2 separate regions of the Homo sapiens genome follow, and region 2 is linked to region 1. The links come from fine-mapping of genetic effects on gene expression. A gene starts in region 1. The other region holds a variant in brackets. All regions are shown on one strand. Distances are from middle to middle.

Region 1 (5,380 bases):
GGTTGGGCCCAGAATAGGAGTGGACTACAAGGTTAGAGGGAAAGACCTTGGAGAAAAAAGGAGGTCATTTATTGGGGGGCCACTAATACTATCAAATGTACTACTAGGAACCCATGCATGTTTCTCATAGTTAGAGGAGTATTCAATAGCATTATTAAAGTTTTGGACTGAGGTCAGGAATCAATTGAAAAAATTACATTTAAAATTAAGCAAAATAATTAGATGAATATTTTCTGATTTTTAAATAGGTTTCCAGAATTTCTGGCCAAGTCACTATTGCTCATGATATTGATGTTGTTGTATTATTTCCAATACAGGATGACTTTCCTAAATCCCTGTTGATAGAGTTGGAGATAGAATCAGGAAGAAATACCAGGTCTCATACTACATGGTCATTCATTCCATTAATCAATTCACAGTAATAATGCAATCGTAAGGCTCTTGGTAGAGTTCCTTAGAATCCTGCTTCATAAAGTTAGCTCTCTAAATAGCCAGTGGGCAGTCTGGTTGGACACTTCTCTCTGAAAACCTAAGGCTGTTTGCTTTTGGGCTTTACAGAAGTGGCTCAATACCAGGCTCATTAATGGGAAAAGGGTCATGTGTATGGATACATGTATTTGGACATTTATACGTAATGCGTGATCACTTTTGATCCAATGTTTGGCTTTACCTGTCTTCATCTCCCCTGCATTACCAGAAACTGACTTTGCACTTTCACTTACCACCGCCTCCCTGGGAGGCAAATTCATTTTCCACTCTGGATTTCATAGCTGAAGTCTGAGAAGCAGGAAAAGGAGAGACTGGGATTACCATTCCCAGATTCCAAACTAGCCTGCTAGTTACAGCGGTATGATGCTGCCCCCTATACAGTGATTCGTACCAGTCAGATGAACGGTTCTTTGATCGGTTCTTCTGTCCTCCACCACTGGTCTATCCACCCCATCTTGAACTTTGTTAATACAATATTTCTGCTAGTTATTGTTCAGGGATTGAGAGTCAGGGAAACTGTGTTCTGGTCCTTGGGTTACTTAATGTCTTGAGACCTTAGTTTCCTCATCTGTAAAGCGGGAGGGCTGGACTAGATGTATGTTCCTCCTGCTCTGAGCTGTGAAGCGTCTAGGATGCCAGGAGAAAACCAGACCCAAGTCACAGGGTTCTAAACAAACCATACCTTAAATCTCTCAGTAATGGCCAGCCACATCTGCAAGAAGCAGGCTGGGAAAACAGCTGAAGAATAACAGATATTTGTTTTATTTGTCAATTATGGCTCAGTAAAGCTAAAAAAAAATAGATACTTCTGTTATCAAGAAATTATTGCACTTGATTCAAGGCTGATATTAAACCATAGCAGACTCACTCAAGGTGGGGGGTGAGAGAAACAAAGAGATTACAAAACTGAAAAGAGGTGTTCATTTGCAGAGAACTAAGGGAGTATCCTTCAAACAGAAACTGGAAGCCAGAGATCTCTGAAGATAAGGATCATGAAATGTTGTTATTCCCCAGACAGAATGTATCCCACGTTTTCCACCGGCGTTGTTTTTGGTAAAGAAGGGTAAGTGGAAGGAAGTGATGAGGCTGAAAAATACCATTTGCTTCAATTCAGCCGCGAAGGATCCGCTACCTTTTGGTTCCTATTAAGTGAATTTAGCTTTAGCTTTCATGATAGCATTTTCCCAAAGGAGTCCTTTAGATCTGACCCCTACCCTCTTCGCAGCTAGACTGACATCAGGTGACGTTGCAAGTGCCCCCAGCCCACTAAGCGCTATCAGTAGGAATTGGCCCTCAGCCCCGTCACAGCGCTTTCCCATGACATCCCCCAGCTTCTCTCTCCTAGGACCTCCTCGCCAGCCTACCCCTACCTGTTGGGTAGGTCTTACTTGCTGGGAACACCTGCTGTCCTTAGAATGGGAGCAACCAACGCCTTGGAATCCTGGCCTGTCCCTTCCTCGTGAAGGGGGCGCCTGCGCTCAAGTGCCGGCTTCGCCGCCTCAGGCAGAGTCTAGCAGGCGGGCGACCAGGCGTAGCTGAGTTCTGTGGCCTGGGGAAAGGGGACGCCCTATCCCCACAGCCCTGTTTCGCAGGGCTTCAAGACGCTGAGAACGGCCGGGAACCCCTGGAGTCTTGGAGGCACCCGCCAATTCCAGGGGCCCACCCCAACCCCGCTCTCAGTCTGGGCCAGCGGCGGCGGGACAGGCGCCCGGTCCCCACACACCGGCTGAGACGCCCAGCCCACTGCGGCTGAAGCTCCGGCCGCTGTTGCGGCAGGTGCTGCAAACCGGTCTGCCTTCGCTGCAGGGCTTGCGGGGATGGGGCAAGTGGGTGGAGAGAAAAGGGGAAGAGCCTGGGCGGCCGGCAGGCGGGGCCTGCAGCCTCCCCAGCCGCGGCAGCCGCCGCGCAGCCGGCTCTCTCTGCGCCTCGCTCCGACTCCGGCGCGCACCAAGCGGGAACCCGCGCCCGAGCCCGGCGGGCGCCGCTGCTGCTCCTCTCGGTCCCCGGTTCCCGGTCCCCGAACGCGCCGCGGCGAGGCTGCGCCCGGCAGTGGAGCCGCTCGGAGCTGCTGGGCTTTGGCGGCCGCTCGCTGCTCCGTCTGGCCGGAGGACCGGCGGGGAAGGAAGGGGAAAGCGGGGACACACACACTCGCCGCGGCGCGCGCGCACTGCACACTCGTAGCCGCGCGCCCCCGCCAAGGCGCGTCCGGAGCGAGTTTGGCCCCGCGGCTCCAGCCCCGGCACCTGCCCGCCCTCAGCGTTGCCCCCGGCCCCGGCCCCGCCCGCCGCCCCCTCCGCCCTCCCGCCCCTCCCGCCCCTCCCGCCCCTCGCCTGCACTGCTCTCCCTTCGCTGTGGGGAAGCGACAACGTCCCGATAACTTGCAGACTGTGGCGCAACTGGTCTTGGTAGCGGAGGCACCCGAATGCTGCCCGGGTGAGGTAAGTTTCCTGTGCGTCCCCGGCCCCTTCCCACTAGACCCTTCTGAGGGGCTTGCGCTTAGGGGCTCTGCATCTCTGCTGAAACCCGTCGGTCTCTCTACCCTTCCACTTTGCCTGTCTGCGTTGTGCTGGGGGTGACGTGGAGAGGGCGCCCGTGGCCACCGAAGCGGACCTTCGTTCCGCGGGGGCCACAGCTGCGCGCTCCCAACGGACACCCACCCGCTCGTCACCCGGATCCCCGGGGCCGCAGTGACACTCGGAGATCACTCTGGGTTCACTTAAATAGGAGTACTCTCCCCTTTTCCGGGGAACCTGCAGAGTTTGGCAGCGGAAGGAAAGGTCTCCCACCACCCTCCCCCGGTACGAAACAGCGGTGAACTTGTTAGGCGCCCTGGTATCTCAAGAGGGGCTTGCGAGTTGGTGTTCTGCTCATTTCTGGCGCTGGTGCCGGATTGAACAGGTGCGGTATGGTTCCAGTCTAAATGCAGCAACAGACTTCTGCGTTTCCCAGGCTTTCTCCCCCAGCCTGGTCAACGTGACGCTTCAACATCTGGGGCAGGGGCTGGGAGTGTAGGGGCACTGGGGAGGGAGAATGCCCGGGTTTGATTTACTATGCCGGTGCCAGGAGTCGCCAGAACAGAAGAAAACAAATGTCTGCTTATCTGGCATCTATGCAGATGAGCGTGTTGTCATTTCTTATCCCCCCCAACCCCCAGCTCTCTTGTCTGGTGCCCAGCGTGGCTGAGTAGAAACCTATTCCGGAGAAGTTATTTGGGTAGATTGATTAATTCTTTCATCGAATCTACTGAAATCAGGGCTCCGAACAAGGCAATCCTAGTTACTCTGATGCTTTTTTAAAGGGAGCGTGTTACAGATCAGAAATAACACCCACTATCATCACTACCTCTCTGTGACATTCTCAGATGCAGGAGGCCCTAGCTTTAAGGGGAATGATCCTTAAGGGACCGGTAGGACCTCAGAATGTGTTAATCTCGTGCAAGGAAGAAGCGGTCTCTGTGTCAGTACTTCTGAGTCTCGGTTTGGGGAACCCCTTTTGTCCCTCTAATGAAGCACATTCAGCCAGAGACTTCTCCCCTGTTCTGCGAAGAGACTGAAGCGTTCTGCAGCTGTTGGAGTGGAGAAAGGCGAAAGGATTGGTTTCATTAGGACTCTAATGTGATGAAGTAAGGATGGGTTTCATTAGGACTCTAATGTGATGAAGTAGGGTAGTGTTCATGGAAGCTTTGCTAGAGCATTCCCAGCTGAAAGGAGACGCTGGGAAAAAACCTTAATCGGCCAAGTGTAAACCAGTGGGAGGTTGAGTGAGTTTCATGTGTGATCTCTGAGCGGAGGGAAACGGTGGTTCTGATATGGTCCTGTGGGCAGAGACTTATGAGGACTGATGAGAAAGCTGGTGAGTTTGAGACTGATGTATGATGACATCTTACCTGAGAAGGAAAACTGTGAAGCACTAAATGATAGAACCACATTACATTTTTGTCCACGTTAAGACTAGAGAGATTTAATAATAACACCTTACATTTGCATCAGTGTCTTGCAATTTGTAAATTCTTTTGAGTGTTCTCACCTAATTCCAAACATTTCTGAGGGAGGCAGGGCAAAGACTTTTTACCATGTAAACACAGAAGGAACATGAGGCTCACAGATTCAGAGATTTATCAAGGTAACAAGTGCTGGTATTAGAATCACAGTTAGGTTTTCTGTCATAACCAGGTGCCTGCTCTGTACTTATATAAGGTGGTTTTTTAAATGGCAGAGTTCTTCTGCATTTATTGTGGTCTGCATAGTCTCACTGTAAATTACTGTTTACATTTTACAGATGAGGAAACTGAGGTTTAGACAAGCAGTGGGAGTTTTCCATGGATTTACATCTCATTTAGTGGCATTTGCAAGACTAGAACTTGGATCTTCTGATGTCCAGTCCATTGCTTTGTGTATTCTGCCATCATTTCAGTTCTGATAGCAATGAGGACACATCATGGAAACTGCAATACACAAAGGACTGTTAAGCATGCCCCCAGTGACCTGGGTTCTAGTTCTGGGACTACATTTGGCCGTATGACCTGGGCCATCATATCACTTCCAAGTCTCAAGTGTCTCACATATAAAACAAAACGTTTGTATGAAATTATGTTTTTTCTTTCCAACTTTAGCATTTTGTGATGTTTACCAATGTGTTTGTAATCCAATGTTATCATTTTCTCTAGAGGAAGGAGACCTTTGTACCCCACATCACCTAAGAGACCTAGCTAATTACTCTTTCACCTTTAGTTTATCCCTTCCCCCCTTTACTACATGCCACTTCATCAAAGGAATGAAACTTAACAAGTGCGTTTTAGCTTAACATCTACAGTATATTGTTTAGTTTACTGTTTGACTTGAAAATATTCTGAGGGGTTAAAGTACTGTAAGGTACATGTCAGGGCTTACTT
Region 2 (5,380 bases), 110 kb after region 1:
GGTAAAAACTAGGGAAGAGGCTGGCACAGTGGCTCACACCTGTAATCCCAGCACTTTGGGAAGCCAAGGCAGGCAGATCCCTTGAGGTCAGGAGTTCGAGACCAGCTTGGCCAACATGGCAAAACCCTGTCTGTACCAAAAATACAAAAATTAGCCTGGCGTGGTGGTGTGCATCTGTAATATTAGCTACTCAGGAGGCTGAGGCGGGAGAGTCACTTGAGCCTGGGAGGCAGAGGTTGCAGTGAGCAGCGATCATGCCACTGCACTCCAGCCTGGGTGACAGAGCAAGATTCTGTCTCAAAAACAAAACAAAACAAAAGGGGAAGAAAAAATGTAAGCAAGTTATAGAGGCAAGAAGTTCAACTATGTGAGATTATTTGTGATTATCCCAGATGTGACTGGGAAGAGATAGAAAAGTAACAGTGTTAGTTAAATCTCCATGGATTCTTTGCCTCCATGCCAAATATCATGACTATCTAACTAATTACTCCCCCCGACTCCCAGCTTCCCCACCACCCCGACACTATCACCAGATACACACAGATACATACTATGTCTTTGTATATGTAAAATGAAAATCATTGCAGGACATCATGCAGTAGCAGTGTTTTTCATGAAAGGCTGTGAGTTACATTGGTCTGAAAGCAACACATCCGTCATGGCTGTTTTCACTGGCGACTTTCTTCTGTCTAATGTTTGCAATGAAGGCTTGGCTTGAAAAGGCTTATGAATTCTTTTAGCACAACCTTTGTTGGGAAAATGAATTACAAGTGGTTCATTTGATGCTGATCCTTTTGTCATTGCCATTTATAGCTATTCTGTTTATTCACTTTGGGAGAGCCATTCTGAGAATTGATGAATGTGTTTTATGAGAGAATATAAGAGCCCTGCAATTTGTTTTGATTGGTCTCCATTTGGATTCATAGCGAGCAGGTGCCATCGTTTGGAATTGGTTTTGGCAGTGGCTTGGTTATATAAATATTAGATACATGAAGTGAAACCTCATTTAAATTATTTTCATCAGTAAGAATAGGAGAGCTTTACATTGAATGTAAGACACCATAGTTCTATTTTTACAGCTTCTAAGCATACAAATGTGTAACATACCATATGTCTGAACATATGTATGTAGAAGTGGCCTCCATTGTACAAATATTTAACATACAGATTTTCTGCATTTCTTTGAGAGTTTATGCAAATATTCTTTAAAAAACTCTAAGCCTATAGTTTCTTAATATAAGAATTTTTTCTGGTCTGAAAAATACAGGCATTTCTGCTTTGGAAACTATGTTAAGGATTGTTTCAGTTTGGTGTTTTTTTTGTTGTTTAAGCCTCAGAAAATAACCCAGCACATTTTAAACCTTTGCTTTCTCCTGCTTTTTGTTGTTGTTGTTGTTACTGTTGTTTTTGTTGCCAAACCCACATTAAAAAAAATACCACGCCTCTTTGTAAGGGCTCTAGAAGAAGAACTATAATACTTCCTATCTTCCCAGCAAAACTGTTTACCAGGCTGACGTTTTCCTAAGAATAGCTCCCTAGGTTTTCATGAATCCATATAAATTTCCACACATTTGTTTTTTATTCTGGCACAAAATTTAAGAGGGACTTACGATCATAGGTGGAAGGAGCAATGAGGAAGTCTGTTGGTAACCCTTTAGGTAACATCCTAAACCTCGGGCTACTTGCGGGCAAATTGTTAAAATGCAGGACTCATGATCTCTGAGTACACCCATGAAAATTTAAATACCCTTCACGGTGCTGGGTCTTTTTGTAAGCAAGCCAACACGGTGCCCAGACTCTTTTCCACCCTCTAGCTCTCAACCTTATGTCCCCAGCAAACGGCTCTAAGTCCAATTTCAGTGTTCTTCATAAGTGAAGCTTTCCATGAGCCCCACAGGCTGACTTATGCAGTTCCTCCTCCAAAAACCCAGAGTAAAGGACATGCCACATTGTAAATTGTAGCCACTGCAATGCCTGTCTCTCCTGCTAATAGGATTCCTTTGAAGACGAGTACCTGTCCTTGTCATTATGGCCCCGGGCCTAGCTTACTGCCTGACATGTTATGCTCCATAAATGTTCATTGAATGAATGAAAGAGTGAATTTATTTGGTGTTAGGTAATAAAAATGAATTCAAAAGAGCATAAATAAAACAAAAATGATTGACTTTAACATGCAGGTGTGACCAAGGCCCAAATTATCTTCCAATTGCTTTGTCTTTCGGGAAATGC[G/A]CTAGGAAATGTTAACATACACAGCCTGAATGGCATGAAAATATTTGAATATGGCTATCCTATTGGAAGCCCAATTCCCATAGGGCAAGTTGCACTCATAATGACCAAATAATCAATGAGTCCTCTCCTCATTCCAAAGAGGATTTGAAGTGAGGCCCTACCTAAGAAACTTGGCAGAGGCACCAAAACAAAAGCACTATCTAATGGAGTTAGCGCAATTCATAATCGAAGAGAAGTGGACAGCAGCAGAGATGGACATGAAACCCAGGCCTTCGGAGGCCTATCCCAGCGTTCTTCCAATTCATTCTTGTTGCTTCACTTTATCAGTGTTTAATAAAGTGTTTGTTTTTATGGGAAGATGAGTAAGGACTCGTGGCTAGTGTCCCTTAACCTCTTGTGTCTACAGATTGGCCTACTTAGTTAAGTGATTAGGTAATTAGCAATTCTCCCACTTATTTGGCCATGTATGAGAAGCAAACTCATCTGTGGCAAATTAAAAATACTGAGTTTTATGGCCCTAGTTGGGGAATTAGAGGTTGAAAGGGTTGCTTCTGACTCACATATGGCCCCCAGGCACAATATATCTAAAACTTTCGGTAACTATAGAGTTTTAAAAAGCTCCTCTACCACCTTTTCAATTAAGACATGCCCTCTGGGTTGAGGCTTACTGATGTAGAACAAGTTTTATAGGAAAAAATTATGTAAATTAATATAATTGGCTAACCTTTTGATTGCACTTACAAATTGAAAAATGCGGTGCAATATTGATTAGACAATCTTCTCATTGTTTTTAAGTAGGAGAAAACAAGTAAAAGAGAGAGGTGTATGGTGGAAAGAGCATTAGTTTTGAAGTCAGACAACCCTGGATCAAATCTCAGCCCTACCACTTGACTGGACTCCAGGAAAATCATCCCAAGTCACAACCTCGCTCCTCTCCTTCCTCCTAGACTTAATGCAGGGGCTGCAGTAGACCCTGACTACTTGGTAGTGATCTATTTAAGCTCTTAACGGATTCCCAGAGCTATAACAATAGAAACGTGTGTACCAGTTCCTAGCCTACCTCCCAATCCACATTTCCATTGAGAATCATGTTTCTCAGGCTTATTCCCCTACTGCTTTCCCACTTTCATTATACTTTCTGTTTTGTTTTATGGCCCATCATTGGGTCGTTTGTCCTTAGAGCCATTCCTTACTCTTCCTGTGTTCTGTATCACAGGGAAGTCATCCCATATAGGATGCATTTCTCAGGCTTCCTATGGGCTCAGATGCTTTTCATGAGGTTGGTCTCTGGGAGCCATAGACAGGGATTGGCGGGTAGAAGGTAGATGAGAAAAACCAGGATGTTCTCCCCCAACCTGTGTGTCTTAGGTGGCATCTCCAATAGTGACTGTCTTCTCCATGCTTCTAAACATACCCCTCCTACTGCAGTTCCAACTTCTGCCAGTCAACCCCCGTCCTGATGTTCTGACCCCAGCTGACCTCTGCTTTTGAGGTCTGTTAACACCACCTTCTCTTGTGCCTGCAGCCCTAAAAGCAATAGTGGCATCATGTTGATTGTGATCTGTTTCATCACCATCTCTTGCTTAGCTTTTCAGTTCACCCATCACTTTTATAACCAATTCCATGTATTAAATATCCCCTCTTTAATATACCCAAAGTGGTTTCTGTTTTCCCTAATAGACCCTGAAAGCAATCCTGAAGTGATAAACTCTCTTTATTGCCTTTTCTGGTCACAGTAGCTTAGATGATCCCAAGCCTGTGAAGCGTGCTGAAAATACTGACTCCCTAGGTCTACCACGCAGAGGTAGTGATTCCCTGGTTTCAGTGTGTGGCCCCAGAAGCTGAATTTTCAAAAAGCTTCCCTGGTGGTTGTAATGCCCAGCACTGATTTAGAGAATGGCAAAGCCAGGCTGAGATGGAGGTGCGTGGGGTGGGAATGGATGGTTGCTAGGTTCATTCACCAACTAAGGGCGTCACTTTTACAAACCAGCCTCACAGCAAGAGAGCCCAGCTCAGCAAAATTAAAATGACTGCATCCCATGGACTTTATAGGACACTTACAAGTGTCAAAATAGCACATGTTAAATTGGGGAGTGCCAACGGATTCTTTGAAGAATAAATGAAATCACATATGTGGCAGCATTTCACACATCGTAGTTGCTCAATACATGATCTTCCCTTCTCTCAAATTGAGTGAAAACATAGAACTATAGAAAGCTATGAAATAGTATAAATTATTTATTCCTTAAGGTCACAGAATCCAGATACTAAATACCAGAAATAATAGATAAGTAACTACATAGTCAAAAAAAAGTCATTGTCTGGCACATATTATTGCTCACTGAGCTGGTGCTAAACAGTCCAATCATATGACACCATAGGTTAGCTCTCTTTCATATCAGAAATAATTTTTGAAAATAAGTTTTAACTAGGACTCTTGTGTCAGATTACATAGTAACATCTTCTAAGGAGACATGAACCTTGTGAGTATGTCCTTACTTGGCCATTGGAATTTCTGCATTCCAGGCTCTTGCCAGAGACTACAACTTTGAGTACTCCACTGTCCAATTCTTATCAAAAGACTGGTTAGGAGAAATAATATTCATGGAGGACTGCCTGAAAGATATGCAGCCTGTTCATTCCTCATTGAGATAACCTAAATTCTATTTGTGGTTTAAGTCAGGTTATCACATAGCTTCCTATTTGGATCTCCACGTATTTACTTCTTGTCAGTTTCTCTTTACTGGGGAAGATGAATGAAAAAAGGCACATCTATCATTATGGAATTTTGAACAATGTTAAAAGAGAAGACCCTCAGAGGTTTCCAGACAGAGAAAACCAGCATGCTTCTAGCGCAGGGAGCATCAGACTAACATGAAACTACTCATCTACAAAGTGGGAAGTAAGCAGTAAGCAATACAGTATTTACAGAGAGATGGGACAAAAGACCTGTGAGCCAAGAATCCTGCATTGGCCAAGAGCTCTATTCCTACATAAGTGCAAAAGGAAGACATTTCTGGACATGGAGTTACTCAGACTGGGCCATCTACATGCCACTTCTGAGAATTGAATCAGGACATAGGTGTCAAGGTAGGAGGAGATGAAGAGCCAAAGAGAGAGTGATGAGCAATGAACGTTGCAAAACTTATGG

What was found.
Region 2: its variant is fine-mapped to the expression of PIP5K1B in tibial artery (GTEx, PIP 0.93).

What each region holds. Positions count from the first base shown.
Region 1 is chr9:68,702,836-68,708,215 of GRCh38, forward strand. It overlaps PIP5K1B (phosphatidylinositol-4-phosphate 5-kinase type 1 beta), which reads left to right and starts at 2,405. Exons shown (of 16, transcript NM_003558.4): 1 at 2,405-2,927. RefSeq lists enhancers at 1,919-2,844, 3,533-3,622, 4,073-4,222 and a silencer at 2,263-2,782.
Region 2 is chr9:68,807,899-68,813,278 of GRCh38, forward strand. All of the region lies in intron 2 of PIP5K1B (phosphatidylinositol-4-phosphate 5-kinase type 1 beta), which reads left to right. Among named protein-coding and RNA genes, the nearest start is that of PABIR1, 31 kb to the left of the region's middle. The variant G/A (reference allele first, on the strand shown) is at 2,230.